7 separate regions of the Homo sapiens genome follow, and regions 2, 3, 4, 5, 6 and 7 are each linked to region 1. Evidence: fine-mapped expression QTL. A gene starts in region 1. Each other region holds a variant in brackets. All regions are shown on one strand. Distances are between the middles of the regions.

Evidence for each region.
Region 2: its variant is fine-mapped to the expression of FGGY in whole blood (TOPMed, PIP above 0.99).
Region 3: its variant is fine-mapped to the expression of FGGY in whole blood (TOPMed, PIP above 0.99). The same link has a PIP of 0.9 or more in esophagus muscle.
Region 4: its variant is fine-mapped to the expression of FGGY in pancreas (GTEx, PIP above 0.99).
Region 5: its variant is fine-mapped to the expression of FGGY in whole blood (TOPMed, PIP above 0.99).
Region 6: its variant is fine-mapped to the expression of FGGY in stomach (GTEx, PIP above 0.99).
Region 7: its variant is fine-mapped to the expression of FGGY in pancreas (GTEx, PIP above 0.99).

The regions. Positions count from the first base shown.
Region 1 is chr1:59,294,173-59,298,733 of GRCh38, forward strand. FGGY (FGGY carbohydrate kinase domain containing) reads left to right here and starts at 2,922. Exons shown (of 16, transcript NM_018291.5): 1 at 2,922-2,978. It overlaps FGGY-DT (FGGY divergent transcript), which reads right to left and starts at 2,378. Exons shown (of 2, transcript XR_001738089.2): 1 at 2,197-2,378; 2 at 1-1,592. RefSeq lists silencers at 2,324-2,863, 2,874-2,963 and an enhancer at 4,381-4,561.
Region 2 is chr1:59,230,597-59,235,297 of GRCh38, forward strand. No RefSeq gene overlaps it. Among named protein-coding and RNA genes, the nearest start is that of FGGY-DT, 64 kb to the right of the region's middle. The variant C/A (reference allele first, on the strand shown) is at 2,628.
Region 3 is chr1:59,346,015-59,350,014 of GRCh38, forward strand. It overlaps FGGY (FGGY carbohydrate kinase domain containing), which reads left to right. Exons shown (of 16, transcript NM_018291.5): 4 at 233-384. Among named protein-coding and RNA genes, the nearest start is that of FGGY, 51 kb to the left of the region's middle. The variant G/C (reference allele first, on the strand shown) is at 2,407.
Region 4 is chr1:59,519,235-59,523,234 of GRCh38, forward strand. The region is part of intron 7 of FGGY (FGGY carbohydrate kinase domain containing); the gene reads left to right. Among named protein-coding and RNA genes, the nearest start is that of MIR4711, 210 kb to the right of the region's middle. The variant C/T (reference allele first, on the strand shown) is at 2,027.
Region 5 is chr1:59,636,703-59,640,702 of GRCh38, forward strand. It overlaps FGGY (FGGY carbohydrate kinase domain containing), which reads left to right. Exons shown (of 16, transcript NM_018291.5): 11 at 1,526-1,673. Among named protein-coding and RNA genes, the nearest start is that of MIR4711, 95 kb to the right of the region's middle. The variant T/C (reference allele first, on the strand shown) is at 1,675.
Region 6 is chr1:59,603,737-59,607,736 of GRCh38, forward strand. All of the region lies in intron 8 of FGGY (FGGY carbohydrate kinase domain containing), which reads left to right. Among named protein-coding and RNA genes, the nearest start is that of MIR4711, 130 kb to the right of the region's middle. The variant C/G (reference allele first, on the strand shown) is at 1,953.
Region 7 is chr1:59,391,279-59,395,278 of GRCh38, forward strand. All of the region lies in intron 5 of FGGY (FGGY carbohydrate kinase domain containing), which reads left to right. Among named protein-coding and RNA genes, the nearest start is that of FGGY, 96 kb to the left of the region's middle. The variant G/C (reference allele first, on the strand shown) is at 2,052.

The sequences.
Region 1 (4,561 bases):
GGGAAAACCATCTCCCTTTTGGCTCCTCCACCTGCTGAGAGCTACTTTCACTCCATAAAACCTTGCAATCATTCTCCAAGCCCACGTGTGATCCAATTCTTCTGCTACACCAAGGCAAGAACCCCGAGATACAGAAAGCCCTCTGTCCTTGCAATAAGGCAGGGGTTTAATTGAGCTGGCTAACACAAGCCACCCACGGACGGCTAAACTAAAAGAGCACCCTGCTACATGTGCCCACTGGGGCTTTGGCTGTAAACAGTCACCCCTAGACACTGCCGTGGGGTCAGATCTCCACAGCCTACCTGTCTGTATGCTTCCCTAGAGGTTTGTGCAGTGGGGACTGAAGAAGTGAGTCACACCCACATCGCACGCCCTGTGAAGGGGACAAGGGAACTTTTCCCATTTCATTAGGGGTTGGCAAACTAAGGCTCATGGGCCACATTGTCCATTGCCTGCTTGTGTAAGTAAAGTTTTATTGAAACATAGTCATACCTACTCATTTACTATTGTCTATGGCTGCTTTTACATTACAAAGTTGAGTAGTTGCAACAGAGACTGTATTGCTCACAAAGTCTAAAATATTTACTATCGGTCCTTTACAGAAAAAGTGTCACTCCCTGGAATAAATGAATCAAATGGAAGTAAATGGAAAAAAAAAAAAGGATTCATTCATTCGTAATAGGCAGTGTATCATAACTGAAAAAGATAGTGAAAATTGGTTTCAGACAAACCCAGGTAAGAATCTCACCTTCGCCACTTGGCTGGAAAACTCTGAACAAATTATTTTTACTCTTTGGGCCTGTTTCTGCATCTATCACCTTATAAGGTTGCTGTCTGAGAATTCTACTATACAATGTAATGTATCTGTTAGAGTGTAATATATCTGTTATTAGGTTTGACCTCATACAATAGAAACACAAAATAAAAGTGTCTTACACAGGACAGCAGTTTTTTTCTTTCATGTGGAGGTCTGGAGGGCAGTGGGTATTGATTGGTTCAGTGCCTCCTGCATTAGGAATCCACGCTTCTTTCACTTTGTTGCTTTGCTGTGTGTGGGTTTCATTCCTGAGGTCCTTTCATGGTTCAACACGGCTGCTGGAGCAAATAAAAAATCAAATACACAAAAGCCCAGAGAAAGAGCCATCCACAGAGGCCAGGCAACAAATCCACTTATTCAAGTCTAGCCAAGATGAGACCCCCTTGCCACAGTGCATGAAACCAGCATATTCCACTTATTCCATTCTTGGGGTACGTTGAAACAGATCTGGAAGCAATGTCTTCTGTGTATTAAGCATCTAACACTTTACAAAGCATTTTCATATGTCTTACCACATTTGTTCTTCATAATGTTCTGAAAAGGTAAGATGAATACATCTTATTATTCCTATTGAACACTTGATTCACACAGCTGCTAAGTAACAGATTCCAACGAGTCTATAGCTAGGTCTTTGGGTATGTTGCTGGTAATGAAAAGGTGAACAATCATGGTGCAGAAGAAAGAAAATGAGCCAAACCAGGATCCCTGGTAGAGTTGTAGTGCAAAGACTGGGGTTAATTGTGTGGCCTCAGCCTCACTGGGCTGTTCTCCTCACCTGTAAGACCAAGATAAGAGCACTTATTTACTTCGGGGTTGTTGTGAAGATAGCAGACAATCTTAGTGCACCTGCCACTTAAGATCCGTTCAGTGAAATTATTACCTTTCACAGGTGTGTCTTTGGAAAATCACTTCCCTTTCCTGGATCTCAGTTTTCTTTTCTAGGAAAACAACATGTTTGGACTCAGCGACTGCTAAACTGTCTCCCAAACCTCGAACTCCCTCAGCCTGGGATCCTGCCTTTTATGAAAATAGTTCGGATTGGAGCTCAGGTTGGAATTCTCGCTTTAGTTGCTTGCTAGCTGTGTGTCCCAGTAAAAGCTAAAAATTTCGGATTCCCCACATCTGTAGAATAGGGATACATAACATGCAGCTTATTAGAAAGGGAAGGCATGTGAGAATTAAATTAGGTCCGTGTCCAGTACCCACTAAATTGTAAAAACTTCTCAAAGGCAGGGACCCATCTGTTTTGTAGATTTACAGAATGTCATACGTTGAAGTACGGGGGTTCGCCACGGGATTAGAAAATTTCTGTAGAGTAAGGAACAAGACACAAGGTAAGCATTCAAGAATTGTAACCATGCAATATTCTTATTTCTTACAGTCGCCTACAACAGTCCTGGTGTTTAGTAAACGGTCTGACACACACACCCATCAGGGGCTGCGGAGAGTCCGCCTGGGTAAGCTCCGCAAGGTGAGTCCCCAGAGCCGGGAACTCGCAGCCTGAGCAGACGCAGCGTAGCCGATCTTGGGTCCGCGCTCCTCCCGCCTTGCCCAGCCCTGCCCGCGGTTGGCTAGGCCCCAGGGAACGCTGCAGCCGCGGGGTGGGCAGGCGACGGCCAATCCCACGCCCGGTTCAAAGGGCCAATCAGGCCGCGCTTTACAGGGGCCGCGCTTTACAGGGGCCGCGCTTTACAGGGGCCGCGCTTTACAGGGGCCGCGCTTTACAGGGGCCGCGCTTTACAGGGGCCGCGCTTTACAGGGGCCGCGCTTTACAGGGGCCGCGCCGGCGGGGGCGGGATCGCGCGCAAGGCGGGGCTGTAGCCGCCCCGGGACCGCCCTGCTCAGGCGCCGTGGGGTTCGGCGCGGCTACGTGCAGAATCCGTCTAGCTAAAATGTAATTTCAGATTGGACAAGTACTGTAAGTGACCCTCCTCTCAGTCCCACGTGGGCGCTGGGGGCTTTTGCTGGTGCGCAGGCTCTTAGCGCGCACGCCCAGAAAGAGGCTTCTCCAACCCGGCCCGGCCCTTCCTTCCCCTTTCCCGCAGTCGTTGCCTCCTCCTCCCCTGCCTCCTCCTCCCCTTCCTCCTCCTGGCCGCTTAGTCTCACACCCGCCGGGCCGTTGTTCCCGAGACGTTGTTGAGTCCCCTGTGTCCTCTTCTGGGTGAGGCGTCCGGCCACTTAAGGGAAGGGAAGGGAAGGGTCGGCCTTGACTGCATCCCCAAGGCTGCCTATTAGGTGTCTGGAACCCGTGCTGCTTCCTCTCCGATCAGTGCCCACTTATCTGTATTCAGTACTCTTTCTCTCCTCCCCTTACCCTTGTAGGACATTTTCCTGGCATTTGAGGAGCCTTTAATTCACGTCTGGCTACCGAAGGCATTTTTAGGCTAGTGTTGCTTGTAGATTTAAACGCTTCCAGCACTTGTGATAATGTTTGAGGCACAGCTGAGTTTAGATGAGATAATGCTGTTTGGTTACAGTTATCCTGAGTAGAAAGGCCTAGGGATATCTTTTCATTTTTAGCCGTTTCCTTTTTATTTAAAGATTGACAAGGGGCCGGGCGCGGTGGCTCACGCCTGTAATCCCAGCACTTTGGGAGGCCAAGGCGGGTGGATCACGAGGTCAGGAGATCGAGACCATCCAGGCTAACACGGTGAAACCCCCGTCTCTACTAAAAATACAAAAAATTAGCCGGGCGTGGTGGCGGGCGCCTGCAGTCCCAGCTTCTCGGGAGGCTGAGGCAGGAGAATAGCGTGAACCCAGGAGGCGGAGCTTGCAGTGAGCTGAGATCGTGCCACTGCACTCCAGCCTGGGGGACAGAGCGTCTCAGAAAAAAAAAAAAAAAATTGACAAGGTGCAAAATGGTGAATTTCCCTCATCATGGGCTGTTTTCCACTAAAGCACTTCTGTGTCTTAACACAAATTTCTTCCCCGAAGAGTCAGTCATGACATGACCAAAGTCTGAAAAGCAGTTAATCCTTAGGTTAAATTTTAAAGTATGAGACCAGGAGGGGTGAGGTGCTTATTCTTTTGACTTGTAAATCAGAATGAAAGAAGGGAAAGTCTTTTATTTTGTGGCTGTTATTTAAATGGTAGAGTTTTGCTTTGTATAGTTTTTGCTTGCTTTTCCTCTTTTTTTTCTATGATCCACCACGTGTATGTCCTGATTTTTTTCCTTTTTAACTTGCTTGCTGGATTTTCCAGCCAGATGACTGCCGCTTGGTCTTCTGGGAGTCTCCTGTTAATGGGGCCCTCATGCTTGGCTCTTGACCTGATGGCCACTGGCCTGGCTCTTGGAGGACCTCCTAGTGGGAGGCCCAGAGCACTGTTATTAAGGATGATTGGGGGAACAGATCAGAGGGGGTCAGCTGGGCCTGGAGATCAATTTTGAGGGGGAGGGAGGTTGGGAGCCTGCCTGGCTGGATTTGGAAGTCAAAACATGTGTGCTGGGAGAAGGGCATAACCCCAGAGGGTGGAGAGCCATGTCTTTCTGGATAAAATTAATAAGTTTACTGGGAGGAGGCTGGGCCTTCCAGGCTGTGTTAGTTTTTGTTGTGGGCCTTGGCTTTTCCTGGAATTTGGTTCCCTTTCCCTAACCTTTCACTTATTAGTTTAAATAGTTCCCTTTACCTAACCTTTCACTTATTGATTTAAATAGTTTAAATCACAGTCAATTACCAGCTGGTTTTTAAAATAATTTGAGGTAATGAATCTTGCCCTTAATCTCCTAGCCAGAGTGGAACCCCC
Region 2 (4,701 bases), 64 kb before region 1:
GTTTCTAGGTTTTAGTGTGCATTAACTACATTAACCTAGATGTTTTCACCCCAAGTCTCCTTCCCAATCAAGGGCCTGACCTTGGTGTAGCCAGCTTACTGTGGTTGAGAATCCAGTCTCCTCTAGAGCTCTGCTACCTTTATAGTTAAGTCCCAGGCCTGAGCCTCAGTTTTTTTCATCCTCTGGCTGCAGTGAGTGTTGCTTCATATGCTGCCAAGAAGGACTTCTGACTGCCACATTTTGTCATACACTGGTGATTAATCACCCCCAGCCTTCATTATGCATTTTTCCAATGCATTAATTACACACATCCGATTCCATTGTCCTTATAATTACTCTTTCACCCAAACCTGTTAAATGCCTGAGATATTGCAACGACTATTGCATTCCCTTCCACTGGTATCCTACCCTTTTCACCACTAATTAACAATTGCACCACTGGAGCATGCCAAGGCTATCAGGGCCTCACATACCATCAGTGATAGGATCCTCAATGCCACCCAGGATGCCCACTCAGGGTTATTCCCATTGACAGAAGGGGTCGGGTCTTTAAAAACCTGCATCAACAGTCATTGGATGTGAACTGCCCCTGGAAAGTAGGGACAAAACTTGATTGAGACAGTTCCATCAGTTGAGGGCAGTTCCAGCGAAGGGGTGCAGCTTCCAGAAGCTGAGGGAATAAATGCCTTGGTCCTGATTAGGCCAAACAACACATTAGCTATAATCCCTTGAAACTATAGGAACATGCTCACCACCACCATCCAAACTGCAAGTGTCTGTTCCGAGGTTATCCTGCCAATAAGCCTTCTGCTCGGCATTTTCTGTTCCCCTTACTCAGCTTCATTTTTCTCCCCAGCACTTACCTCCATGCGAAACTCGTGTTTACTATTTATCTCCTACCATTAGATTGTACACTCCAGGCTTATGGTACCATACCACCTAGGGGAGGGCTTGGCACAAGGTAGGTCCTCAACAAACAAAGGAAACCAAATATCTGTTATGTACCTACTACATGCACCTCACTGGAATTGCTGTGAGGATTAAAATAAATCTCACATGTGAAGGTCTACACATAGACACTCAATATAAATATATATATATGCAAATGTAAGTAAAGAGACATTTGTGCATATACACTACAAGTAGCATTGGAATAAAGAAAAGGACTTTTCTTTGCAGAAAAAAATACTGAAATTTGAGCAACTCAGCATCAGTGAACAGAGGCCAGAAGAAATGGCTTGCACCTGTAATTTCAATACTTTGGGAAGGCAACACAAGAGGATTGCTTGAGGCCAGGAGTTTGAGACCTGCCTGGCAACACAGGGAGACCCCGTCTTTACAAACAATGTAAAAATTAGCCAGGCATGGTGATGTGCACCTGTAGGCCTAGCTACTCAGAAGATTGAGGCAGGTGGATTGCTTGAGGCCCAGGAGTTTGAGGCTGCCACTGCACTCCAGCCTGGGCAATGGAGTCTGTCTCTCAAAAAATAAGACTCTGACTCTCAAAAAAATAGTAAAAAAAATAATAAAAACAAAAAATAATCAGCATCAGTGAAAAGAGACTGAACTTCTTGCCCAGAGATTAAGTGCAGGCCTTGACTCTCTGTAAGGTAGGAAGATTTAGGACTAGCTTTTATTTCTTCCAGCACCAGCATTTAATTGCTGACTTAACAGGGGCTCAGGCCTATAAAAGATTCACCTTGTTTCTCTGAATGTATACATTATTTACCGTAGGGTCTATAAAATATTTACCCATTTTCTCAGCCGGCTGCACTCTGCTCAGCCTTGACTACCACACTGCTGCCTGAAGTTGATCAAATAGACGGCTGGCACCTCTCCAGAAACAGACCGAGCAAGCAACTAGAAAGGGACCATATTTTATGCATTTGTCAGAGCACATAGCAATCAAGGGTGCTGAAAGGCTTTCTGAAAGTACTGGGGAGCAGCGGGGGAGGGTGCTTAATCCTGTCCCACCTCACCCACCACCTCTACAACGGGACTGCCTCTGCCACATCCAGTACATTCATCTATTCAGAATGCACTTACAGAGCACCTATTGTGTTCTATAGATCTTGGGCAGATGGTTAGGAATAATGAAAATCTATATCCCCTTGATGGAGGAAACAAAAACGATGATAAATTATCAGGATGAGAAGAGCACCCAGGTATTGAGCTCTCTCTCCATGTATCTTGTGTAAAACACACGGCCTTGTGAGCCAGATTTTTGGTTGAAATTCTTTCTAACTATCACTCATGAGTGTATATCCTTGGGCAAGTTCTCCAACCTCTTTTTGGCCCAGTTTCCTCAGGATATTAATAGTCCCAATTTCAGGGGATTACTGTGGGGATTACATGGATGTAGAGCACTGAGTATATGGTGCCTGGCATGCAGAAAGCACTCAGTAGAAGTTAGAGATGAGGAGGAAGGGGAGGAAAATCCTTAGGACAGTCCCATGTGGTAGATGTATTGTGCACCCCCTTTTACAGATGAGAAACTGAGATTTAGAAAATTAAACACTTTGCCAAAATTCACTTATATGTGGTAAAAATCAAAATTCAAGCTCACATCTGCCTAATTACAAAGACTGTACTTGTATCCACTGTTCACATACACATACACAAGAACA[C/A]ATACACACACTGATATGGTTTGGCTGTGTTCCCACCCAAATCTCATCTTGAACTGTAGCTCCCATAACTCCCATGTGTTGTGGGAGGGACCCGGTGGAAGACAACTGAATCATGGGGGCAGTATCCTCCACACTGTTCTCGTGGTAGAGAATAAGTCTCATGAGATCTGATGGTTTTATAGGGAGAAAACCCTTTCGCTTGGCTCTCATTTTCTCTCTTGCCTGCTGCCATGTAACACATGCCTTTTGCCTTCTGCCATGGTTGTGAGGCCTCCCCAGCTATGTGGAACTGTGAGTCCATTAAACCTCTTTTTCTTTATAAATTATCCAGCCTTGGATATGTCTTTATCAGCAGCTTGAAAACAGACTAAGACACACACATATATGAAAATGTGGCATAGCCATCATGTGTACCATGGTTTGAGTGACACTCCCAAGCCCCAATGACATTAGATTTTCTTATTTGCCCTTACAGAAACCCTTTCAATGTCGCCATCATGATTATAATAATTTATTAATTTGATTATTATTTGCTGATGTCTGAGTCCCTCCCTACACCATATGTGGGCAGGGACTATGTATTCCCAGTTCCTGAGTGAATGTTTTACATGTATTGTAATTTATCTTTTGCAACAATGCCCATATATAAAAAATATTTTTCTCCCATTCTTTACTAACAAAACTGAGGCTCAGATAAATGAAATAACTCATCCAGTAACAGCTAAAAAACGGGAGAATTCAGATTTTAACCCAGATCAGTCTGATTCTGAAGCCCATGCCCTTTCCATTGGACCTCATTGTCTCCCTGAGAAAAGAACAAGCCCAGAGGCAAGGATAGAAGAACAAATTCCTATAAATTAAGGGCCACAATGTCAGACATTATGTGAGATTCTTGGTCAACACTGTGTCTTTTACTCCTCACCACAAATTTGTTTTCAAAATAAGGTTTCTTTGCTAAAACAAGGTTCTTGCAAACTCAGGTGCAAGCTCTGCTGGAATGAGCTGGTAAAAAGCAAAAAGAGGCTGTCTCCAAGCATGAAGGACATCAGGGAAAGCAACAAGGAATCAAAGATCTTTAATATGTCTATTCTCTTCAATAATGGTGTGCAAAGAGTACAGCCAGCTCAGGTGGGGATCAGGTGAATGCCAATGTCAAAAGCCCAGTCCACGGTGAAGGAGTGTAAGGGAGATTGGGAATGAAGAAGGATGTTTTGACCCGACCACTTTGACTCTGACTCACGTCATACTTCTTCCTTGCTGTAGTAATGCTCTCTATCCTTTGCTTTAAAAAACCACAGATGCTACTTCTCAGTCTTATGTTCAATGACTTTTGGATCCTTAATGAACACTACTGGTAGAAATACTTGATGCAAAATATAATGGATGAAAATCACATATAGTAGAATGTTATTGACCACCAATTAACAAAAATATCAACTCTTCCTAAACAAGAATAGAATTTGAAACAGAATTTTATAGAATTAATGTTCACAAAAGAAAACCTGAAGTGACAGAAGCTATACTCAGTTCATCATGTAAAAAGTACTGATTAATTCATAAAATATTTCTTTCACAATTTATAAAGAAATATTTTATTATAATAAAATTAAAATGGGAAAAATCAGAAATGGCGAGCTGTGCTGTACAGAAATTCAATCAAAAATACAAACTGAATCAATCATATTTGCTCCAGAAAGTATTTGATTCATCAATGTGAATATAATTTTCATGGAATAATTGTCTTATGAAGTCAGAGACAATCTTGGAGCCAAAACTAAGGTCTCCAGACGTGTTATTTATCTTACCCAGGGTCTTGTACTGTGCAGGGAGCTTTGCTTATGTTATCGCTAATCCTTACAACAATACTTTGTTGTTGGTTTACAGTCTCCCAATTTGTAGATGAGTAAAGTGAAATCCAGAAAGGCTAAGTAATCTGTCTAAGGTCATACATGATTTAATACTACAGCCAGGATTATTTGTTAATCAAAACAGAATACTCTTCGCATGAAGTGATGGTCATTTGCGTCTTCCTTCCTAGAGTTCAGGACATTTTGCAAGGGGTTGGGGAAGATGT
Region 3 (4,000 bases), 52 kb after region 1:
GTAGACATTTATTCTAAGGTCATGGTCAGAGAACACATGACTGGACGGGAAATTCCAGGCCTGGGGACAGTGCTTTCCTCAGCCTTGCTGGTGTCCTTTCATTTTGCACACTCTTGATACATAAAATTATAGAAAGTACATAGCATTTTGATCTTGGGAATCCATAATTGTTCCCTTGAATTAGAAGGAAGAGAATGTGTGTCCATCTGCATCTCCCTCTCGTTTCTGCTAGGGGATTCCCATCGAAACGTCATCATGTGGCTGGACCATCGAGCAGTCAGTCAAGTTAACAGGATCAATGAGACCAAGCACAGTGTCCTCCAGTACGTCGGGGGGGTGATGTCTGTGGAAATGCAGGCCCCGAAACTTCTGTGGCTGAAAGAGGTGAGTGCATAGGGTCTAAGAGAAGATACCAACAATAGTAGAGGATTCCTGTTACTGTGGACCTGTAGGTACCAGGCACCCTGCTAAAATCGGTTATGTTTGATTTTTCCCAGCAACTAGGAGGAAGGTTGATCCCATTTTATTGATTACAGTGTAGTTAAATCACACCTGTTTTTATGTGCCTAACTCATACTAGGCACTGTGACAAGTATTGTACACATTATCTCTTTGAAGGCCAACGACCCTATGAAGTGTTTGTGTGTGGTGTTTATTTTAGGGTGTCTGTTTTGTAGACAAGAAAACGAATGTTCATAGAGATAAAACAACTCACTCAAAGTGACAAAGTAAATATGTGACAGAACCAGAATTTGAACCTAAGACTGGCTGACTCCAAAATCATTTTTTTTTAATTTTAAAATGTTTCTTTTGTAGAGACTTGGTCTCACTATTTTGGCCAGGCTGATTTCGAACTCCTGGCCTTATGTGATCCTGCAAAAGTGATATGATTATAGGTGTGAACCACTGTGCCCGGCCATCCAAAATCAATTCTTTTTTTTTTTTTTTTTTTTTAAGTATCAATTTCTCTTTTAATCTTAGACGTCGTGGTGGAAGGAAAAATCAGTTAGCAAAGAAGCAATCTCAGAAAAAGTGTATCTTTTTGATGCCTTTATGCCTTTTTTTTCCTCTTTTTTTTTCGGTTATTCTTTATTATTATACTTTAAGTTTTAGGGTACATGTGCACAACGTGCAGGTTAGTTACATATGTATACGTGTGCCATGTTGGTGTGCTGCACCCATTAACTCGTCATTTAACATTAGGTATATCTTCTAATGCTATCCCTCCCCCCTCCCCCCACCCCACAACAGGCCCCGGTGTGTGATGTTCCCCTTCCTGTGTCCATGTGTTCTCATTGTTCTATTCCCACCTATGAGTGAGAACATGTGGTGTTTGGTTTTTTGTCCTTGTGATAGTTTGCTGAGAATGATGGTTTCCAGCTTCATGCATGTCCCTACAAAGGACGTGTGAACTCATCATTTTTTATGGCTGCATATTATTCCATGGTGTATATGTGCCACATTTTCTTAATCCAGTCTATCATTGTTGGACATTTGGGTTGGTTCCAAGTCTTTGCTGTTGTGAATAGTGCCACAATAAACATACATGTGCATGTGTCTTTATAGTAGCATGGTACTGGTACCAAAACAGATATATAGACCAGTGGAACAGAACAGAGCCCTCAGAAATAATGCCACATATCTACAACTATCTGATCTTTGACAAACCTGAGAAAAACAAGAAATGGGGAAAGGATTCCCTATTTAATAAATGGTGCTGGGAAAACTGGCTAGCCATATGGAGAAAACTGAAACTGGATCCCTTCCTTACACCTTATACAAAAATTAATTCAAGATGGATTAAAGACTTAAATGTTAGACCTAAAACCATAAAAACCCTAGAAGAAAACCTAGGCAGTACCATTCAGGACATAGGTATGGGCAAGGACTTCATGTCTAAAACACCAAAAGCAATGGCAACAAAAGCCAAAATTGACAAATGGGATCTCATTAAACTAAAGAGCTTCTGCACAGCAAAAGAAACTACCATCAGAGTGAACAGGCAACCTACAGAATGGGAGAAAATTTTTGCAATCTACTCATCTGACAAAGGGCTAATATCCAGAATCTACAATGAACTCAAACAAATTTACAAGAAAAAAACAACCCCATCAACAACTGGGCAAAGGATGTGAACAAAATCAATTCTTTTAATACCCAGTATTCTATTGGAGTTCAGAGAGGTTAATTACCGTTCCAATGAGAAAGCAGCCGAGGTGGGATTTAAGTCCATATCTTCTGACCAGAGCTTTGCTGTTCTGTACACTTTTAGCCCCAACTTATTAATATTTGGCCTTGTTGACATCTTAGGCTTTCCCTTTCTCATCCCACCTGCACTCGAGTTTCTCATCCTTAAATGATATGGCAATCTCTGGTCAAAGCACTTGCAGGTGGCTCCCATTTCCA[G/C]ATGTTAGGACTTCTTTCTGAAGTGTGGAGAATGGTGATGTCAGCTTAATGGTTCCCATTAGAGATGGATGTGTGAGAAAGTTCAAGTCCTTTGGGAATCTCAAGGACTTGAAAACCTCTAGGTGGTCTGGAGAAGTAGAGAATCCATCTAATGAGCATGACCTGCTGTGATTCATTTACTGGCTCTGAGATTTCAGGTGGGCTGAGTCTTCTATTACTCAGATTGTAAATGGAGATGGGGAGAGCTTAGGTTGCTGAGAGGGTGCCTAAGGATTGCCATCACGGGGCAGGAGAGTGGTAGGAAAGAAGGGCTTCAGCAATCAAAGCAGGCTTGGCTTTTTAGCTATTTTATATATTGAGCTGTTTTGTAAGTTTTAATCTACATAAAGGCTTCTGTGGTTGCTAAGAGTTTGAAAACAGAGTTTCTTAGGAGTCAGGAGTTTTCAAGAATCTAATTCTGACTCTACTGTCAACAATTGTATGCTTTGGTCAAAGCACTTCTTATTTCAGGCCTCACTTTCTTCATGTATAAAGTGGGAGAGTTGTATTAACCAGTTTGAAAACCTGACTCGGGTATATACTGAAACACAAAATTGGAATATAGAACTGTTCTGCGCTGCCCGGTACCCTGCTTTGAGTTGTATAAGCATTAGTTGATTTTAATCCTAATGGTCTGTGCCTGGTAGATAGCACAGGAAACTGATCCTAAGGAGGTTTTCCCAAACAGGTGATAGAGCCAGAATTTAAATCCATGTCTGCTGGGCTCCAAATCTCAGCTTATTCCATCATGTCATGCAGTAGTAAAATCCCTCTGTGAAGCATGGCTCTTGGCGTAGGACCAGGAATGATGGCAGTGGTCTTCTTCAATTTGGCCTAAACTTGTTGCTATATCAACAAGTTTGGATTGGATATATCACCTTTTTTGGCAACACAGAAAGAAAAGTTATACTGAGTTAAGCAAAGAGGATTGGGCGGAGGGTCATTGGTTCAGTGTCAGGGCCTTCTAGAGCACTTGCCATGTGGCCAGCTCCAGCCTATATCCCAGGAGATCTAAATGCATATCTGGCACGAACCTCTCAGGATTCTTACCATCTCGCACTTGAGATAAAACTGCACTAAATAAATCCCATAGGAAATAGTTAAAGTCTAGATTACATGGCAGTGTTTGTGACCCTCTGAGAACATCTTATATTAATTTATTTTAAAAAATCAATTTTCTTTCAGAATTTTCTGAGTAAGCCTCTAGTGTGGGGTGTGTTTTGGTAAGCATGTACAGGAATTCTTGCTGAGAATTCCTTTGGCTTTAACATGATTGCAAAATCAAAATTAAAGAGATTTCTAAAGTCAGTTTTAGCATCTTCTTAAAGCCTGACCAGGAGGGCTATAGTGCTTCTCAGACTTCAATGTGTAAATGAATCACCTGGAGATCTTAGGTTCTGATTCAGTAGCTTTGGGATAGGGACTGAAAATTTGAGATTTTGTATTTCTAACTCAAGTTCACGGGTGATGCTAATATTAGTGGCCTGGGAACTTGTGAAACCACTTTTAATTCCAAAAGCTCTGCTCCCCTACCCTGAAAAGCATCCACTTTTGG
Region 4 (4,000 bases), 220 kb after region 1:
TTGACCCTAAAAATGTGAGCAAGTAACAAATTTTGAAAAAGGAAAGTCTTTAATATTTATTGACGACCCACTTTACTAGTTCATGGGGTTAGACAGTGACTATGAGAGAGAAGTGGACTTCTGGGAATTTGTATTCTAGTAAAGAAAATAGACAAGTAAATAAACAGTTACGGTTACTTGTGCCGTGTATGGAAGGCTTTGGAAAAACATAAAATGGGCCTAAAATTGAGACTTAAACAATTATTAAAGGATTCCTAGAGGGAGTGATGTCCAGTAATCTAATTACGACACTGCTTTCCCTGTTATTGCTTCCTGGTAAAGTGGAATTTATATATTTTTTGCGACTTTTAAACTTCAACTAGGCTTCATTTCTAATAATAAAATAATAACATTGTTAATTAGAACAAATACAACCACCACTCTGACTGGTACTACTATGATGACCATTTCTTACATGTGTCCTATGTGCCAAGTACTCTACCTGATACTGCTCAGACTTTATATCTTGCTCCTCACGATAAGCCTACAAGGTAGAGGTTGTTTCCCCATTCTGCATGAGGGAATTGAAGGCAGAAAGAATAATGTTTCCACAATCACATAACTAATCTCATAGCAAGATTTGAAATTGAGTCTGCCTCCAAGGTTCATATATCTTTTCTCTAGGCCAGTGGTTCTCAACCAGGGGTGATTTGACCCCTCAGGGGACATTTGGCAATGTCTGGGGACAGTTTTGTTTATTGCTTCTGGGGAAAGGGAAATGGCACTGGCCTGTGGTGGGTAGAGGCCAGGGATGCTGCCAAACACCTTACAATGCCCAGGCCAACCCCCTGCAACAAAGAATTATCCAGCTTCAAATGTCAAATGTCAGTAGCACTGAAGGTGAGAAACCCTATTCTCTCCTGGAACACCTCCAGTGATATTATTTCTCTTCATCAATTCAGCTTATTTCTATAGAAGCCAAAAAGCAGCCCACAATAAGGGTTTTGCTGATACATTAGTACTTTGTTGAAATGTGTTTTGTGAAATTGACTCTTCAGTAAAAGTAGTTGTGAGATTAAGAAAATAATAGAAGTGAAGCCTGAGGAGTAGGGAGGACAGGATGGTTTCTAGCTCATCTATTTCAGAGTCAAGCCACACGGGACAACTTGGCCGTCTTTCAGCACATCATGCACATTCCACCTCCTTTCCTTTGTTACTCATCCATCAGCACTCAGTCTAAATGTTACTTTGTGGAAACATCTCCAAATTTAATCCATTCTTAGAAAAGCACCAATCACTCTCTATGCTGTATCTGTGAAATACTTTACAACTATTTCAGTTTTTTCACCAAATCATGTTCACGTTTGTATGCCCATCATCCAGCATGAAATCCACATAGCTGGTCTTCACTAAATCAATGTAATTATTTAATTACTATTATTAGTAATTAAGATAATAAATATAAGAGGGTTTTGAAAAATCCAGAATAAGAATTGGTAAATATAGGTGAGGGAGACTTTAAGAAAATATAGATTCCCATGCCCTACCCTGCTGAGGATGCCTGGAATCTTGTTCTAAGTGTGGAAAATGTCACCTGGTACCCAGAGGAGACAGCCTGGGGGGATGAGTTGGCACTGAGGACACTGGGGTCAGAAGCAGTATTGATGTGTTTCTGCCAAGTAGGCAGATCAGACCAGAGCAGAACCGTGCTGCGCAGGAGCCAGGCCAGGCGCTGGCCAAAAGCTGGGGGCAGGAGGGAGCTTGTCCAAAATGAGAGAGAATATGGATCCAAAGAGGCAGACGGTCTGCAAGAAATTGGGGGTGGGGGGGGATTAGAAATGCAGATAAAGTCATGCCGTGGAATCTGGAAGGAGAAAACCGTGCCAGTCCCTGAGCAGATAGAGCAAGGACAACTCTGGGAGTTCCTGGATGTGAATCACAGAGGGCAGAGGAAGAACGTATTCATGGGATTGCAAGTTTATTGTTTTAAGTTGAGGTTCGGTTTAATGCGACCCACTACTGCCTGAGACCTCGGCAGTTCATGAGC[C/T]GTGGCAACAGCTCATGTGATGGAGGGAGGGGCAGAGAGCATACGTGGGGGGAAGGATAACTGAGTTTCCTGTTCCCAGGCTCCAAGGCTTTCTTGGAGTGCTGTGATTCTCTGGACTGCAGAAGGCTGGCCTTAGCTGAGAGACCAGACTTTGACTCTGTGGAAGAAAACCGAGAGAATCCAGGGCCTGGTGCTATTGCCAGCTCCCCATGTGTCCCCAGTTTTTAAATCTTGTGCCACACGTCAGTGTATATGGCTGTGAACCTGCCATGAAACCATAATATTTTGAGTTTAATACATACACTCCTGTTTGGATAATGAGTAATCATAGGCTTTAGAACTAAAAGGCTGCTCAAAGATTCTGTATACCAAATTCTTCAATTTGCAGATGAGAAAACTGAGGCCCAGACAATGGTGAATCATCCAAAGTTACCCCAGCATATTACTTTCAGAGTCAAATTTAGAATCTGAGTGACCTAGTTCATCAGCCAGGGTCCCCGCCCCATTGTACTACACTGTCTCCAGATTAGGAAAAGGGAATGACTCCTGATTTGTTATTCCATTTTATACCTTATATCCCATTTAATGGCCACAGGCAGCTTCACTGGTGGTTATTAAATAGGTAATTTAGTTTTCCTGAGCCACACTTGAGTAAATCTCTTTGTTTTGTTGTCACAATCTACAAAAAGCTCCAAAGAATCTCCTCCAGAGCTGGAAATAATAAAAACACCTGCTATTCGAGTTCCTTCCAAAGAGCTCAAAGCAGTTATTTTTATTTCACCTACCAATCGTTGAATACCTATGCTGTGCCAAGTGTTTTGCTAGGTACTTGACTATTCACTATTGTGAGCTCACAACCACACTGTGAGCTACAATTATTTTTGGACTTTAACATACAAGGATGAAGGTTTAAGAACCTGCCAAAGGTTACATTTTAATAAATTATAAAGTTGGGTTCCTGGACCCACCGATTGCAGAGCCTATGAGCTCTCCCGTGTTGACCTGGCTAGTGAATCTATTTGTGTGTAGGTATGTTTGTGCCTTTACTTACGTTAGCCCATACTTACACCAATGCATATTTGTATCTATAGTGGAAGATAGAGCTTCTGCTTAATATCCTTCTGGACGTTTGTAGATCTATTTTATGGATGAGAAAGTTGAGGCCCAGGGTGGAGAAGTGACTCTAATAAAGTGTATTTAAAGCAGCACAGGAGTCTGGGTTCCATCAATCATGGGGAATAAGGCCAGGCTTATTAGATCAGGGTAGGAATGGGATGCGTAGCTATTGGGGTTGTGTGGTGGAGAGATAAACAATATTAATGTTGACGTTAATTTTGTTTACTAAATTTGTTAATTAATGCTTACAATCTCAATCTCAAAGATTAATCTTAATCTTTTTGTAGTGACTTGCTGTTTTTAAACTACCCTTGGAATAGGGAAGGTATTTTTACCTCCCACGAATGGTTGGGAAAACTGACCTTCGAGGAGGTGAAGGGATTTGCCTAAGGTTACAGGACCAGGAAGACTGGATCCAAGACTCAAACCCTTATTTGTGTGCCTCTGTCTTCACATCAGCTTTAGTGCAACCCTTGCATCAAACAATGGAAAAGTAGTACCTAGTAAATGGAGCAAGGTGTCTTATTCTGTGCCCAGAGCCTCTCATTTTAAACAAGCTCTGATCATCTCATCTACTACAGAACTGTATCTGGTATTCTGGGGCCATTTTTAAACAGAAGGTTTCACTTATTCTCTCCTGTATTAGTATATGGCCGAGAAAATTAGCTGAGCTGTTATTTTCCTTTGCTGAACTGGGGAACAAAAACAAAAAAACACACAGTAATCCAGCCACTGGTTCTGACACTGCCAAGCACCTGTTAGGAGGACTTCCTACTCCAAGTTCAAAAGGTACGGACTGCTAGAAAAGTGTGTGTTTGGGGGCCCAGAGTCTAAGATTGCACTTGCGTCACTGGCTGC
Region 5 (4,000 bases), 340 kb after region 1:
ATGCTCTACTCATTGGTTTGTTTCCCTACACCAAGTACAGGAAACTTTTGGCAACTTCATGGGATCCATGGGATCACTCACCCAATCACAAACTAGAACTAGAAATCACTGAGCCTTCCTTCTAAAACACTTTTAAAATGCAAAGCATAAATAATGCCTTAGGTATCTTAGATATTAACCTCCTTTGGATATTGATTTCCTATACTTTTTTTTCTGCCATTATACAAGCCATGTTTTTAACCTTTAAAGAGACTTCCAAGGACCCCAGTGGGAAGTAGCACAGATGCCAACTACTGCAATATCCACTTTCTTTTGAAATCATTGGTTCAGAACTTTTAGAAAGCAGCATCTTTTAAGAGGGGAAGGTTGACCAGCTTTCATCTTTGTGTCATGTGGTGTGATTTAACCCGGTGAGGTAGGTGTTATTAAACCTATTTTATGAGTGGGAAAATTGGAGGTCAGAGGTTAAGTCACTGGCCCATTTTACCGAGCTAGGAGAGGTAGTATCAAGATTTGAACTGAGTAGTGCTCTCATGCCCATCATCTTCTCTCCACCTCCTCTTCACCTGAACATGTAAAGAATGAAGGAGTTGGTTTGACTCCCTCATTCTACACATGAAGAAACTGAGACTTAAAAAGGAGAAAAAAAACCAGGCGAGGTGGCTCACACCTGTAATCCTAGCACTTTGGGAGGCCGAGATGTGTGGATCACCTGAGGTCAGGGGTTTGAGACCAGCCTGGCTAACATGGTGAAACCCCGTCTCTACTAAAAATACAAAAATTAGCTGGGTGGGGAGGCTGAGGCAGGAGAATCGCTTGAATCTGGGAGGCGGAGGTTGTAGTGAGCCGAGATTGCACCATTGCACTCCCACCTGGGCAACAAGACTGAAACTCCATCTCAAAAAAAGAAAAAGAAAAAACGTACACAATGTCATCTGGTGGGTTTAGGTTGAAAATCAGGTCTCTAACTCCTGATCCTAACTGCATTTATGACATTCAGTCACTTTACTTAGCAAAATCCTATCCTGAGTCTGGGAACTTATAATTTCTCTCCATTTATCAACTCATCATCATTATTACAATTAGGAATACTGATTTTAATAAATTATTGACATATGACCAGTACTGTACAGTTTACAAAATACTGCGCCTTCACATACATAATCTTCTTTGATCTTCACAATAACCCTATGAGGTAAGTTGGACAGGGATTATGATATCTGTTTTTACAGATGAGAAGAGGGTGGTTCAGAAAGTTTGAATAACTTTCTCATGGCCATACATCTACTAAGAGTAAAGCCATTCCTGGATCCAGTCTTCTGACTCCAAACCTTTCTACTAGGATGTGGCACCTTTCTTGGTGATAGTACAGTGTGATTTGAGAGTACAGTGGGCTAGCTTCTCTGAAGCTTTTAGGAGCCTGCTTACTTTCCTGGATCTGGAAGTACAAATGGTTTCTTTCTATAGAATGATTTGCTCCCTGACCCTATCCCCCCTTTAAAAATAAAATTCACTTCTCTTCCAGATGCCAGAGTATATATGCATATTTGAACAGTCACCTGGATCTGATTAAGAAGGCTCAGCCTGTGGGTTTCCTTACTGTTGATTTACATGTTTGGCCAGATTTCCATGGCAACCGGTCTCCCTTAGCAGATCTGACACTAAAGGGCATGG[T/C]AAGTAACAGCTAGTCCTTGCACATGGGTGAAGGCAGGCCAAAGGGCTACAAAGTTTGGAAGAAGCAAAGTGAGGAAAAAGGAAAAGAAAAAAATAAAACAGGCCAACAGCCCTCTGGCTTTGTGCAGATGCATTGCTGTTGCTGCTCCCTGGGATGAGCTGCTGAAAGTTTTCATTGTTTCTGAGCCAACCTTGAAAGCGTTAAAAGCAGCATTTCCTAGTTCAGCTACTGCTGCCTCTTTGTCCTGTGGAGTGGCTAAAAGTCATGCCTATGTAATTTTGGCATTTATATCAGTTTGTAAAGTCAAATTTTCCAGCTGCATCTTTAGGTTGCCCAGTAAATCAGTAGTAAATATTACCACCCATGGTCTTGCTGGCCACAGCCACACATCTGCCTAGGCTCTGAGTCAGGGCTGTTCAGATTCTACACTAATATAGTTAGGATTTCAGATTAAACTTTGGTATAAGTAAATGTAATTTATAACTTATGTTGGAAAATAAATCCTGCTCTTAGTGCCCTTTAGGGTCACTTCCTCTGTGGATATTCTAGGCTCTCCTAGAGGGGCCAGATGAACTTGGTGGGAGAACTCTCAACCACCCCAGTTGAGATATAAAAGTAATAACATCTTAGACACCAGGAGAATCATGTTTGAGGTGTGATGAAGCAGGTTAAAGGTAGAGGAGGGGCCAGGTGAGGCCACAAATAAGAAAATAAGCCATGAATGCAGGAACCAGGAAAATGTCATGAAGCTGAGAAGGTGAGTGTGAGGTACATTAAGGCAGAGTTCAGAATGGAGGCTGTAAACAAGGCAAGGCTTATGCAAAGGAAGCCGCGTAACAGTGGAGCAGGCCTGATGGAGTCAAGAATTCAAGACTCAAACTACTACAATTTTGTGGTTAGTTTTATTGAGATTGTTTTAAATATTTTTATGATGCCAGCAGGAAGACCTGAAATTTATTTTCATTACCTAGTTGACATGATCAACTTCTATTACTAAAAGGGAGTCATGGTGAAAAGAAAAGAAAATTAGACATGACAAAGGTTATGTTGATCTGGAGTCCATGAAGCATGCCTACACAACAAATCATGAGCTTGGTGTCCTTTTTTATAGAGGCAGAAGAATAATGTCCAGAGAGGGCCATGTGGCAACAGACCGCAACTAGAAAGTCATACTTTCAGATAACCAACTCTCTCTGTAAACAGGGGGTAGGGGAAGAACACATTTCATATGGGTACAGAAATAAGTGTCTTAATTAGAGACAAATATCTGAAGCCAAATAGAGCTAGATATTTAAAATGTTGAAGCAGTTAAGAAGCTTGACCAGTGTTTTAAATGACCCCAAAACAAAGCAGTGTTGCATAGTAAAATGGTCATTGCTCTGGAGGTCATTTGTTGCTTTAGATAAAACTGACCTAGGAGCCTTCCCTAGCCAATGTCTGTCATACCCAAATTCAGTACCCAGCATGTCAGGCTTCATGTCTCCCAGTAGCTTTTATCCATTTTTTAAAACCAATCCTGACATCCAAGACCTAAGAATTATCATCAGAAGGATATTCTAATACAGTTGACCCAAATGCAGAATGAAATTCCAAAGAAATCAATGGAGTGTTCTGAAGAATTCTCATATCATGAGAATAAGTATGTATGCACCAAAAGGAACTTCTTACATGGGGACATATGCCCAGTTGTATCTAAAAATCCTGGGTATGTTTACTTTTTTAAAAAGTTGTATGTTTGTTCACATACCTCATATATCACTTGGTAGTTCTTGGCAATGATTCCCTTTATAACTGTCCTTGGGTTAGGCTGCAATGGAACAGTTATCACTCCATGAATTTGCATCACAACACTGGAAGGAGAAGATGACCTAAATAAGATAGAAGGAAAGCAATTCTGAGCTAAACACTTCACCCCAAATCTCCTTCCTTCAGTCCAGTTTTGGAAAACATCAAAATAATGACCCTGAAATTCTTCTGTTATGTTATATCCTTTTGCTGGAAACTACGATGATGCCTATCTCCAGCACTCATTCAGCAAATATTAATTGGGTTCCTATTGTATGCCAGGCACTGCCGTAGATATGAGTAAGATGCAACAATACCTACCTTCATGGAGTATGTTTAAAGTTGGGAGTGGGCGAGTGCTTGAAAAAATGTTAATAGGAACTAGCAGGATAATTCCAATAAAGCAAGATCCATGTACAATTTCTTCTTTTGGCCCCTAAAACGTTTCCCTGGACACAGAGTAAGTGCTCAGTATATGCTTATTTATAATTTATAGGCAACATAGAGATAATAAAGAGGTCATTTGTTGCCTTAGATAAA
Region 6 (4,000 bases), 310 kb after region 1:
TTTTAGAAATGAAGATTCCCTAACCTACTTGTCATCAAGGCCAGAAGGTTATGTTCAGTTTGAGTAAGTCTGTGTTGGCTCTAATGGCCCTTGCTTTCTGCTCTTCAAAACAGATGAAAGACTCAAAGAAGTAATGGTAGCCTAAAATTAAGACTATAATTTGGCAGAGACAAATATAGAACCTGATGCCTGACTGCTTTCAGTTTTTGTAACACTGGGCATGTTATTTAACTCTCTGCCTCAGTCTACATATCTGTACAATAGGAATAATAACAGAATTTTTAAGTGATTTAATACCTGTAATATGCTTAGAATCAGGCCTTTACTAAGTACACAGTAAGTCTCAACTATTGTTGTTGTTGCCAACAGTGCCGTTATTACTGGGAAGTCAGTGTCCTGCATGGACACCTGTCATCAATGTAGTATGATGAGCTCCCCTTCTTTAGGGTCATGGAGCAGTCTCCAGGCCAAGACAGCCATCAGCATGGAAGGGGCTTTCACAAAAAGATTTTTAAATATTTAGGTTTGTTGCAAAAGATTAAACAACACATAAGTACACAAGTGTACATTCTTTCTCTCTCTCTCAAAACAAACTAGGAATTCCTAGATTCTTCTAAGAACACAGGGTTTGAGAGTGACTAGAAGTACTCTTTGTTTCCTTGCTTTACACAGGATGTCTGAGGAGAAGCATGTGCTATTCCAGATGAGTGGGCACAAACAGAGGTCAACTCAAAACTTTCTCCCTGGACAGAGCCAAGCAAAACCATTCTCTGACATTTCTGAGCAGCAAAGCAGCAAAGCCACAATCTTCTAATGAAGTCTTGCTGCAGCTGATGCAGTAACATCCCCAAATTGTGGGACAGGGGATGGGGAGAAGGGAGGTGAAGTGTATCCTTCCTAAGCAATTTATGCATACAAGTAAAGAGCATTATCATAGAGTTTGAGGTCAACATCTGCCTCAGTTGAAATCCCATCGTGGTCATCCATGTACTAACCATAGACAACTTACACAACCTCTTGGGGACTAATCTGTCAAATGGGGCCAAGAGTTCTGGAGGCAAGGGGCTGCAAGACACAGAAAGAGATGACTTGGCTTTGGCTCTACCTGTGCAAACCCTGGGTCCTAAGTGGTAATGAATATGGACTGCCTCATTCATCTCAAAGAAGCTCTGGGACTTAGGAAAGCAATTTCTAGAATTGGCACGTGATAAAATTTTCACTGGGCAAAGAAAGGCAGAGTGGTGAAAATAAGTACCAGTTAGTATGCTCTCCTTGTGGCTGGAACATTCACCATAGCTCACTCGTGCATTCTTTCTCTCTCATACACACAACACTCACACTCACCCACCTGAATAATTTCCATGCATGTTTTAAATCTTAATTCATGTACCATTTCCTTGGAGAAGCATTCCCTGTCACCTAGACTGAATTAGGTACCTCCCTTGTGTGCTCTCTTACTACCTTTTGGCTTTCCCTCATTTACTTCTCACAGTTGGTAATTACATATTTGTGTAATGATCTGATTAATATTTTTCTTAAGGTAGCCAGTTGCCCCAGTTTGGCTGAAACTGAGGGGTTTTCCAGAAGGCAAGACTTTCAGCGCTGAAACTGGGAAAGTCCTGGCCAAACCTGCGTAATTGTTCACTCTGGTCTGCTTCCCTCTCAAGATCGGATGCTCTTTGAGTACAGGCACTATGCTCTTGTTCACCATTTATCTCTGTGCCTGGCACAGACCTGGACTGGGAACTCAGGAAACATCTGTTAACCAGTAAAGAAGTAAATGTATATGTTAATCTAAGCTGAACTTACTTTTCTTATGAAAGCCTATCTTTTTTCTCCCTGAAATTATTCTATTTTGATGTTAAAATATCCCTTTTGAAAAACTGTCCTTATTTGACAAAATTTAAAGTTCACAATGTTATGCTGTTTTTGTTTTTTGCCTTCCTTCCCCC[C/G]CTTCCCATTTTGTGGTTGGAAATCCTACTGATTTGAGGAATCACTTGTTTAGTAAAGAGAGAACCGGGGTAGCTGAGGTCAAGACAAATAAGGTCTGTCCCCATGCTAAAATGCTAGTAATCACTTCTGTATCCTCTGGGCCTAGCACATTACCAAGCACATAGTAAGGGCTGAGTAAATATTTGTGAAATATATAAATGAATAGATTTTCTGCCCAGCCTCAAGACCTGCTGGAATACAACTTGTATGCCTAACTCCCTTTTCTTCCCTACCCTCTAGCTAAACATTTCTGTGACCATAAATGTGACTTCAGCATTCCTTACTGCTGAATAGATGAGAAACATGTACCACTGCAGATGAATGAACACATGGTCTATCCCCACCCGTTCTAGTTCATCTCTTTAAATGCTTTCCTTACTGTTGAAGGGACTGCTATGGTCTGTTAAAAAATAATAATAATAATAAAATAAAAAATTTTAAAAAAATGGCACTATCTTGATTACTGAGAGCACCTCTCTTACCCACATGGCTTTGTTCAAGCTCCTCCCTCTACTTGGAACACCTGTTTCACTTTAGCAAAATCCTACTAGTCTTTTCAAACTTAGCTTATGTCCCTTTCTCTAAGAAGCCACCTCTGTACCCTTCCACTTGTCAAAAGTAAAATGAGAACAAGTTAGGGAAAAATTTGAAAGTTTTCTATCTTACAAAAAGTACCAATTGCCATCAGCAAGACTTCAAGTGGTAAGAAGCTCACCTTACGGCAGTTACAGTGCAGTTTATGAAGCATTAAGGAGAAAGTATTTTGACCTTTTTAGTCATTGGCTGTTATGTATTAACATTTTTTTTTCAGGGGAAACAGGACTGTTTAAACTGATTTGTCTATAGTTGATTGATTTAATTTTCCTGAATCATGCTGACAAGGACCTAAAGCTTATGTTTTAATTTCATCAAATCATGCTGACAGGGAGATAAAGCTTATGTTTTATGCTTTGTTTATAATGAGAGCTAGCAACTCAGGGAAATCAGAATGACTTAAGTTTTACCACTTGACTCTGGGCAGTTGGCCTTGGGGTATATATCTAAATGGCGGCCTCTATCTTTGTATAATCTTTAGTACATTCCTCACCTCCTGTGCCCATCCACAATATTTTGTATTTTGTCTTTACCATCTCATGAACCACACTATATTCTATTTGTCTATTTTTTTGTATAGCTCCTCCACTAGATGGGAGCTTCTTGAAAGTAAGAACTCTGATTCATCTTTGTGTCCCCAGCACCCAATAGGGGGACAGGATTGCTATTAGGTAGCAGTACATATTTGTAAAAGGAAAGAAATCTATCAGTTATTATAGTCCCCCAAATGCTAAGTTACAGACAAATAGAAAACCTTAGTGACAAACAACAGTAGACATTTATTTTTGCTCACAAGTTTGTTGGTTGGCTAGGTGAGTCTGATGATCTGGGCTAGTCAATGCTGGTCACCTACAAATATTTGCTGATGTTACCTGGGTTCTTTCATATATGTGGGACATCACCTGAGACAACTGAACAGACTCAGCTCTGTTGCACATCTCCTGTCACCCAGCAGCCTTGTAGGGCATGGTCTTGTGGCCAAGTTTGAGGAGCGAAAGACAGAACAGAAGCACACAGCCCTTTTGAGACCTAGGCTTGGAAAACTGACCCAGTGTCACATCTGCCTCATTCTCTTGGCAAAACAAGTCACAAGACTGGCATAGATTGAAGGGGTAGGGAGATAGACCCACATCTCAATGTGAGGAGCTGCAAAGTCTCATTGCAAAGAGTGTTGACACAGGAAGGGTGGAGAATGGGGACCACCTTTGCAATCTCTGCCATAGTGAGGGAGCCAACAGGGAAACACCTTATCAGTTTCTTTCCAAAATGACCATTTTTATTACCTTAACATTTAAATGAATTTATCAGGAAAGTTTCTAAAAAAAGGAGCCATGGCCTTTCTTGGGAGAGAGTGACTTCCCCACCATAAAAGGCATTCAATAAGAAGCTGAATTCCATGGTCATAGAAATATTA
Region 7 (4,000 bases), 97 kb after region 1:
AGTTCAGAGGCTTAAAGTCCAGGGAGGGCGAGAGAGGATGAAGCATGCTGGGTCAGTCGGGCTGGAGGCAGTGGGGGAGTCGGAGGGAGTAGGAGGAAGTAGGAGGTGCTAACATCATGAGAAGCATGAGTTAAGGCACAGGTTCTCAGGGACTGTGCCTTGCACTTGTACTCACTTGTTACATCACTGACTGTCCCTCTCTGCTACATTGAGGCAAAGTCTGAGGAAGGTTGAGGTTGCTTCTTTCTCTTTTCATTAGTAAAGCAAATCTGGATAGAAAAGGGTGAGAAGCCCCATCTTTGTCCTTTGGAGGAAAGGGTAAAACTGTGTGACCTCGACGATTATGATGTGCACTCTTCACTGAGAACCACTAGTCTGAATCTGTTCCATTTCTATAAAGCTTTTTCCCCAGTTCTCTGCTGTGTACGTCTAGATGTGGATTTTATGTGGCTGAAAGATGATCTCTAGCATGACTGTCATTTTCCAACTGAGCAGCAGTATAGCTTTTCCTTTACTGAACAATTTTCTCTGAGACCTTGAATCACTTTTGGAATTTAATTTCATTTGCTTTTTCAATATGATAAAGTAGAACTCTCTCTGAATTTGATTCCTCACTTACAAATAGATATGATACTATATTCTCTGTTGAAAATGTTTTGGAACTGTGAAGATGCTAGAGAGTTAGATCTCGTGTTTCAGGGAACAGAACTGAAACTCAGAAGGGTTTCATTCTGAGGGTGAAGCCAGTGTGTGGAATAAGAGTTAAATTTTAAGGGGTACATTCCTGGATCATGCCTTGTTCAGGAGTCTTTTTCCTGACCCAAGAAGGCCTCCCTCAGGATACAGTGGGCATCTCAGTCTTTGTGAACTCTTAAATTCATTTCTTACCCAGGGTGGCTAACTCTGTCAGTGGACTATTTTGTGAACTTCATACTTTCGGAATATGTTATACTTATGTGATTCTTGGTAGTCTCAAGAACCTTGGTAGAGGTTCAAATCAGTCAATCTGGTTAAAGGTATCAGTATTCAGTCTTGGAATCAAGTGGCACTAGAGCTCTTAAGGCTTGGCGGTTTTCAGGACCTACATCACAAGATACAGAAGTGGTGTGGCTTGGAGCTCGTAAGACTCGTGTCTGGTCCAACCAGGTAACTTGGGGCCCCTGGCACCCATATCAGACTTTTCTCATCTGCAAAATGTGCTGCTTGGAGTGGGTGATTTATTTAGTACTTCCCAGGCCCAAAGTTCTGAGTCTGTAAGATGTAGTGGGGTTGACCAGCATCTCCTTTTGGATTCTCCTTTAAAACTCATTCCTTTGAAAGGAGATTGCTAAAGTCAAACCTTAGAATCCAACCCTTTGGGCTATGATTTAATGTTAAAATGCTGTACCCTTTCCTTTCCTCCTTTTTCTCCTTTACTACTTCTATTTTGTTTCTTTTTCGAAAAAATATACCTTCTTTTAAAATTTTTCTTCATTTTTCCTTCTTCTCTGTAAATTATCAAGGGCCTTTGAAGAGAATTCTTACATGTTATTAAGAAATTGCAGTCAGGGAGCCCTCTGTTCCCAGATCATTTAGAAGATTGCTTTTCCTTTTGTTAAATACAAAAAATTGTCAACCTGTATTGTTAAAATGTGCCAAAAACTGCATTCACCAATAAAAAATGTCAGCTCTCATTATTGCCCAGATATTATTCTTTTCAAAAGCGGAGCACTCTTGCCAGGCTTTCTAAACAATCTTCAGCTCATTCATCTTCCTGGTTTTGTTACATTTTGAACCTCTCTGGGTCTATATAAGGTGGCAGCCTGTCTTTTAAAAATTAATGGATTCCAAATGCCATTCAAACCTATTTCCGCCCTTAACCTCCTCCTCTTCTCCCCAACCCTGCCTGTTAGGAGTCTTATGTTCTGTATAAATATTGAGCTGGAGATAGTTTCTAAAGAGGTGTTTGGACCTTTAATTAACATTGACAGCCTGTCTGCTTAGGATTTTGCTCTGCTGTCTCCATGGAAAAGTCAGGTAGGTCAGTATGTGGGGGAGGGACCTCTGCAGTG[G/C]ATGTGTTCCTGGCGGCTGGCCCTAGAGACACTGCACTCTGAGCCAACCGTGAAGTCATTTTGAATTTAAGGAGTCTTGCTAATCCAAGGCAATGTGTCTTAATTTGACAAAGTAAAGGCTGCCCGATAAGCAAGCCTCACTACAAGTTCTGTGAAACAGGGGGTGTTTGTAAGTTTAGATTGTGCTAGAGAAATGTGGTGATGTGGAAGAACGGGCTCATTTTCTCCTGTTTACTCCCTTTCCCACCCCATCCCCCTCCTCTCTCCCTTCTCTCTTACTTACTTTGGCCCAAATCAGCCCTGCAGTCTGGCCTCTGCAGTGGCTTGATGTGAAATTTGAGAAACATATGTAGTTTTCTATTTCAGGAAAATGATCTCAGGGATTGAATGTGTTTTTTTGTTGGCTGTTAAGCTCTGATCTTGCCCAGTGTGGTTTTTTGATGATGGGAAAGAGGCTTCGAAGTGCTTTTTATCAGAATTTCATGTAATAAAACTTAAGGTTTGGTTTCTTTATTTTGGCCCCCAACCCCCTCCCAGGCTCAGGACACAATGTCGTCTATTCTGTCAGAAGTGGGAAGAAGTACACATTGTTCATATTACAATCACTTCTTTGCTGCTTGCACACACATATATAAGAATGGCCACTGTGTCTATCCTTCACAAAAGCTATTTTAAATGTAGTTCAGTGGAGGACCAAAGGTCTGCGTAGTGTCTCTTACAAAGGAAAAGGGATCTGTTGGGGGAAAAGTCTGCCTTTGTTTTGCCTTGGAAGGGCCAGTATTTTTCTTTGTTCTAGAGGTGAGTGCCAATAATGGGCCTAGTGCCCTATCAAGCAAACTTCATTAATCCAGCCCTGCAAAGGGTACACTGATCAGATAAAAGGGACCTACATCCTCAAAGCTCAAGGTATTTGTTTTTAAACTTTTTTCTTACTGTAAATAAATATCACTATTGTACTTAATCTCATATTCATAATTGTATTCCTTTTCTTAAAGAGCCTTTACATAAAAGCTTCAGGCCCTACAAAATCCGAGAGCATCCTTCATGGAGGAAGGATAGTAGACTCGAGGGTGAGTGGTTGAACTTTGGCTCTGGTGTAAAATGCCCACCCTGGGACTTATTGTGTGACCTTGAGCACGTTACATACCATTTCTGCACTTCATTGTCTTATTTATATTTCATGGGCTTGTTGCGGGATTGAACAGGTTCAAGTGTATAAAGCTCATAGTACAACCTGCTAAGGACTCAACATTAGCTATTCCTGCTGCTGTTTTTATTATTTGTTGCTGGCGTATAAGACCTAGGCAAATGGAGCTAAATACTATTGTCTACCATTAAAATATTCACCTTCTGGAGGGAATAGTGCAAGGGTAACTTCAGATTTGCATTGAAAAACCCATGGACTATCACTTTACATATTTATTTCCTTACCATCTTCAACCCTTATCCAGACAGCTCCAAATGCACATTATTCAGAAAATTGGTGATATTTTCACAGCACTGAGACTAAGCTCATCTCCTGCTGGTCCTTATCACTCACCAGCCTTTCAGCCACATCAGACATCTCCTCAATCTCTGGGCAAACCAGGCCTTTTCATGTCTTCTTGACTTTGCACGTACTGTTTCCTCCCCGCAGAGTATCATTTGCCCTTTTTTCTGCTTGTCAACTGCTATTCACCCTTCGAGACCCAACTTAAATATTATTTGTGAATTTTGGGCAGTTACACAGACTCTTTTGGGCAGTTACACACTACTGTTTCATTTTTCCTATAGTTCTTCAAGAACTTCTCTCATTGTAGTGTAATTATTTCTTGACATACATTTTTCTTCTAACAGCCTAGGAGGTCTTTGGATGAAGATACTACAGTCTATTCACTTTTATAACCCCGGTACAGAGTGCATGACACGTGTTAGGTGTTGAGAAATCTGAGAAATCGACTGGGAAGAGT